2 separate regions of the Homo sapiens genome follow, and region 1 is linked to region 2. The links come from fine-mapping of genetic effects on gene expression. A gene starts in region 2. The other region holds a variant in brackets. All regions are shown on one strand. Distances are from middle to middle. Region 1 overlaps IKBKB (inhibitor of nuclear factor kappa B kinase subunit beta). Region 2 holds the start of POLB (DNA polymerase beta).

What was found. PIP is the estimated chance that this variant, and not a neighbour inherited with it, causes the effect.
Region 1: its variant is fine-mapped to the expression of POLB in testis (GTEx, PIP above 0.99).

What each region holds. Positions count from the first base shown.
Region 1 is chr8:42,276,493-42,279,406 of GRCh38, forward strand. All of the region lies in intron 2 of IKBKB (inhibitor of nuclear factor kappa B kinase subunit beta), which reads left to right. Among named protein-coding and RNA genes, the nearest start is that of IKBKB, 6.6 kb to the left of the region's middle. The variant G/A (reference allele first, on the strand shown) is at 1,671.
Region 2 is chr8:42,337,007-42,339,920 of GRCh38, forward strand. POLB (DNA polymerase beta) reads left to right here and starts at 1,488. Exons shown (of 14, transcript NM_002690.3): 1 at 1,488-1,679; 2 at 2,006-2,063. The coding sequence starts at 1,619.

The sequences.
Region 1 (2,914 bases), 61 kb before region 2:
TTGTTGGATGGATAGTTTGCAAATAATTTCTCCCATTCCATAAGTTGTCTCCATAGGTTCCATAGGTTTATTCTGTTTTTTCTTTTGCTGTGCAGAAGCTTTTTAGTTTGATGTAATCTCATTTGTCTACTTTTGCCTCTGTTAACTGTACTTTTGAGGTCTTATCCATAAAATCTTTTCCCAGACCAATGCCCTGAAGCACTTCCCGTATGTTTTCTTGTTTTTTTTTTTTTGAGACAGTCTCACTCTCAGCTGAGACAGGTGCGATCTCGGGTCACTGCAGCCTCTATCTCCTGGGTTCAAGCGATTCTCCTGCCTCAGCCTCCTGAGTAGCTGGGATTACAGGCAGCGCCATCACACCCGGCTAATTTTTTTTTTTTTTTTTTTTTTTTGAGACGGGGTCTCGCTCTGTCGCCCAAGCTGGAGTGCAGTGGTGTGATCTCGGGTCACTGCAAGCTCCGCCTCCCGGGTTCATGCCATTCTCCTGCCTCAGCCTCCCAAGTAGCTGGGACTGCTGGCGCCTGCCACCACCCCCGACTAATTTTTTTTTTGTATTTTTAGTAGAGATGGGGTTTCACTGTGTTAGCCAGGACGGTCTCAATCTCCTGACCTTGTGATCCGCCTGCTCGGCCTCCCAAAGTGCTGGGATTACAGGCGTGAGCCACCGCACCCGGCCACGTGTGGCTAATTTTTTTTTTTTTTTTTTTTGCAACGGAGTCACGCTCTGTTGCCCAGGCTGGAGTGCAGTGGCTTGATCTCGGCTCACTGCAACCTCTGCCTCCTGTGTTCAAGCGATTCTCCTGTCTCAGCTTCCCAAGTAGCTGGGATTACAGGCACCTGCCACCATGCCTGGCTAGTTTTTATATTTTTAGTAGACACGGGGTTTCACCATGCTGGCCAGGCTGTTCTCAAGCTCTTGACCTCAAGTGATCTGCCCACCTTGGCCTCCCAAAGTGTTGGGATTACAGGCATGAGTCACTAACAGGCGCCTGGCCTGTTATTTATTTTTAAAAAGCCAAAAGCCAGCTTCCTCCTCCTGCCGGCTGAACCCCACACAGTCTGTCTGCACCTGCCTCTCCATCATTCCTCCCCTTGGCTGCCTCTGTTTTGAGCGCTGAGCCCTCTTGCCGGACAGGCCTCCCCCTCCTCCACATTCCTCCAGGACCAACTCTAGGCCATCTCCTCCTCATATGCGTCTGGGATGGCTTTGTTCTGTGGCAACTGGTTCTCCCGGTGAGTTCCTCTGGGCTGGTTCCTGTGCCGCCCTTCCTGTCTGCGTGTGGAGTAAGTCTTGTCAGGACCCTGCATTCCTGGTCAGCCAGGGCTGGGTCTGGCCTTTGGAGTTCCTTCAGTTCTCCTGTAGCAAGTGCCTGACGTTGTATATGTGCTAGGTGCCCCAAATCATCCACTCTGCCAGTCCACAAATATTTATCGAATGTCTATTATGTGTACATTGGTAATTAAAGCAGACCTTTGGAGAAGGGAAGGAGCCATTAGTCAACTAATTATAAATGTAAGCTCCTAAGTATGGTAAAGTGTGAGTTGGGAGAAGGACCCAGTGCACTGAGACCTTCCGTTGGGGTGGGATCAGTCAGTGTCAGAGGAGGTTCCCCAAGGAAGTGACACTTGAACTGAGGCCCTAGTAGAAGTCAGCTTGACAGAGAAGGTGG[G/A]AGGAGAGTTCCAGGCCAAGGGAGAGGCTCCTGAGGGGCCTCTGTGGAGGGCAGGTGTGGCAAGTGGGCAAGACTGAAGGCCAGCGTGGCCGGAAGGGAGGATGGGGCACAAGTGCCTGGGTGGCTGAGGGTGGACGGTGCAAGTCAGATCCTGTGGTGTTTTTTGGGCAGTTTCAGCCGAGGAGGTTTTGTTTTGATGGAGGAGCAGTGGAACGATGTTAGAGGGAGGCGCTGTGCCCATGGGGACAGATTGGGAGGGCCCAAGCAGTGGGCAGCGTGCTGGGAAAAAATCAGCTCTCGGAAGAAATGCCTTGATCCATAGTGTGCAGCAGTTCTCATGGAGTAGCTACTCCCACCAGGGCTGACTTCAAGCCACCAGTAGTTTAATAGCCCGCTCCGGCCTGATTCCTGAGTAGTTAACAACCAGCTCTCAGTGACTGCTACTACAGTGTCACTGGCTCCGTCCCAGTGATGCAGGCAGACCAGGTCTGAATGTTTTGGAGTCGTCTAGGTGAGAGATGGGGAGAGGTGGGCAGACTTAAGAGATATTTAGCCTGGTGCAGTGGCTCATGCCTGTAATCCCAGCACTTTGGGAGCAGAGGCAGGTGGATCACCTGAGGTTGGGAGTTCGAGACCAGCCTGACCAACGTGGAGAAACCCCGTCTCTACTAAAAATACAAAATTAGCCAGGCATGGTGGCGCATGCCTGTAATACCAACTACTCAGGAGGCTGAGGCAGGAGAATTACTTGAACCCAGGAGGTGGAGGTTGCAGTGAGTCGAGATCGTGCTACTGCACTCCAGCCTGGGCAACAAGAGCGAAACTCTGTCTGAGAAAAAAAAAAAGAGAGAGAGAGATTTAAGGGGTGGAATTAACAGCGCTTAGTGGTGGAGTAGAGGTGGAGGGGAGCAGGAGGAGTGGAGTGCCTGCAGGTCCTCAATGATGCCTACCCGTGAGCCCGGCCCAGGCCAGGAAGCTCTCTACCTTCCTTCCCCGTGGGTTCTCCCCAAGTTTGGGAAATCTCTAGGGCTGCTTTGGGTGCTGAGGAGAAGTCTTTGATCATTGTCCAAGTTCAGAAGATGAGCGTGTATGTTCTCTGTTGGGAACCCCTCTGTTCACAGCCTCTTAAAAGAAGCAGCTGGGCTATGGTGGTGTTGGTTCCTTGACTCTGATGGTTTTACTCCACGTAACAACAGTGTGCACTTTCCTGACACTCCATGCACTGCATCTTGTCTGCAGAAGAA
Region 2 (2,914 bases):
GTAACTTTTAAAATTCAGAGGTAAATACATTTTTATTTAAGGAGGAATAATTCTTCAGAGCAAAATAATCTGAATATCACCTGGAATAGAGATTGGACAGAAAAAAGTGTGAACAGGGAAAACTAGGACAAGTCATATATGTAAATGAGAGTATAAAGAGTAAATGAGAGTGGTCACTGCTCACTGCAGCTTAACTAATCAGATAGTTAAGTTGCAGGCATAAAGTTTTTTTAACTTTTATTCCTCAAGTAATAAATTGAGGAAAATACAAATATGTACAAAATTTTTACAAAAGCTATCCATAAAAGGGCAAGTAGTAATATATAGAAAAGATCTACCAGATTAGTAACAAACTACCCCCATTAGGAAAATGGTAAATGATATGAATAGGAAATTCAAAAAAAGAAGAATTACAGATTTCCAATAAGCATAACTTAAGATATACACTGATATTGTAAGGAAACACAATCACCACAACCTTGCTAATCAAAGAAACTAATGATATTTATTGGAAAATAATGGGAATTTTTAATAGACTGGGTTAGAAGACTAGAAGTGTACGTCCCAAAATATTAATAGTTCAGCTGTAGGGTGAGATCACTGATTTTAATTTTCTCCTTTTATACATTTTTCCAGATTTCTCTACAGCAACTACGTATCATTTTGTAATAAATTTTAATTTTTCGATGCACAAAGCAATTGCCTGGAATTGCAGTTCGATATGAACCCAGGAGTTACGCTTGTAAAATAAACTATTGCTGATGTGACATTTCCATTTCTCAAGCAGACTGTAAATTTCTCAGATGTAGGTCATCATGTTATAATTAGGGTTCCATTGCTCATGATCTAGATGAAACACTTCTCCCTTTCTTGTGGTCTCTTCATTAATTTGGTCCCTACCGCAAAGGCAGGGGGATTAAAAATAAAATATCTTTTGACACTGGTTGGCAGGTGTACTAACACGTGTGCGGGAGGATTCCTGTTCTCGGCATGGTTCACGCCGGGCTCCGGCAGCGCCCTAGTACGTAAGGGGCTGCACTGGAGTGTGGACTGCCCGGTATCCTTAGAGAAAGTTTTGACAGTGTGACGCCAGTGTCGCCTCTAACCACGTACAAAACGCGCCATGCATTGGGTAGCTATTACAGTGCACATTTTTGTGCAGGAAGCTACCCCACCAGCGCAAGTATTTCAGAATCAAGATCGCACTCCCGTTTCCCCTTCTAGGGAAAGGATTCCAGATAAACACTGAGAAAACAGATTTAATATCTTAGGTCAAAACTCCAGGTCTTCCCATAGGAAGGCCCCTGGGCTGTCATTCTGAGGTGCCTATTTCCCCCGCGCCGTGTCCACGTCCACGAGTCCACGAACCCTCCGAGTTCTCTCTCCTCACCTGCCGAGGGCTCGCCCCTCTAGCCCCGCCCCGCCCCGCCCAGGACGCGTGACGTCACAACAAGCGCCGTGCGCCCCGCCCCCCATCGGGGGCAACCATTGTTCCGCCGGTCGCGCCGGAGCTGGGTTGCTCCTGCTCCCGTCTCCAAGTCCTGGTACCTCCTTCAAGCTGGGAGAGGGCTCTAGTCCCTGGTTCTGAACACTCTGGGGTTCTCGGGTGCAGGCCGCCATGAGCAAACGGAAGGCGCCGCAGGAGACTCTCAACGGGGGAATCACCGACATGCTCACAGGTTAGCACCGGGCCGGGCCCCGCTGGCTTTCTTCTTTCCTTCCAGCCTCTTCCCCTGCCTTCCTTCTCTCCCACACCGACAGTCCAGTGGGTAGGGTAGGTTCCTTGCAGCGGGTCGTCTTCCGTGGGGATCTCCCTCCGGCGCCCCTGGCTGGTTGTCAGTCCTGCCGGCTACACCTGGGCCATCGCTTGGGCTGCTTTTGGTCTGGCCCTTGGAGGAAACGGGTGGTCACTGTCTCTTAGAGGCTGCCATATCCCCTTCCAGAAAACAGTTCTCGTTTGTTTACTCGTGGTTCTTGTTCACCCGAGCCTTCTGTTGCCTTTCAGAACTCGCAAACTTTGAGAAGAACGTGAGCCAAGCTATCCACAAGTACAATGCTTACAGGTGGGACAGTGCAGCATTCTCGGGTAGCATACGTTCTGGGATACCCTGTTTAGTGTGGCAATTAACAGGACTGAGGGCCCAGTGGATATTTGGTCCATCTGCAAGAGCGGGAAAAAGCAAGAATCGAGGCTGGTACCTTACTATTTCTTGAAGAATGTGGGCAGTGCGTTATAGGATCAGTTCAGATAAGTTCCCAATTCTGATTGCAGATAGCTGTAGCCTGATACGTATTTTGTCATCATCAAACATGAATTACTAGAAATGCGGTGTAATTTTAACCGTAATGAAAGACAGCGGATGAAGTCCATACTGTGAAATATATGTGGTTCAAGGAATCACATTTTTTCTTTTGGTTGGTCTAAAGTTGATCCTGTGGGATCCTGATCCTGATCCTTGTTCCTTGTTCATGGGATCCTGTCCTTGTTCATCTCACCAGGGGCCTTATCCTATTCATTCTTTCCACATCCACCTGCTTCTACTCCTTAGCCTATATTTATTTATTTATTTATTTTTATTTGAGACGGGGTCTCGCTGTGGTATGATCATGGCTCATTGCAGCTTCAACCTTCCAGCCTCAAGTGATCTTCCCATCTCAGCCTCCTGAGTGGCTGGGACTACTACAGGCGCACGCCACCACACCCAGCTAATTTTTTTTTCTTTCTTTTTTTTTCTTTTTTTTTTTGTAGAGACCGGGTTTTGCTATGTTGCCCAGGCTGATCTCCAACTCCTAAACTCAAATGGTCCACACACCTTGGTCTCCCAGAGTGCTGGGATTCCAGGCATCAGCCTCGGTGTCAGCTCTCCTTAGCCTATAAATATGTGCAAGTCCCTCAGCTCTTAAAAGCAAAACC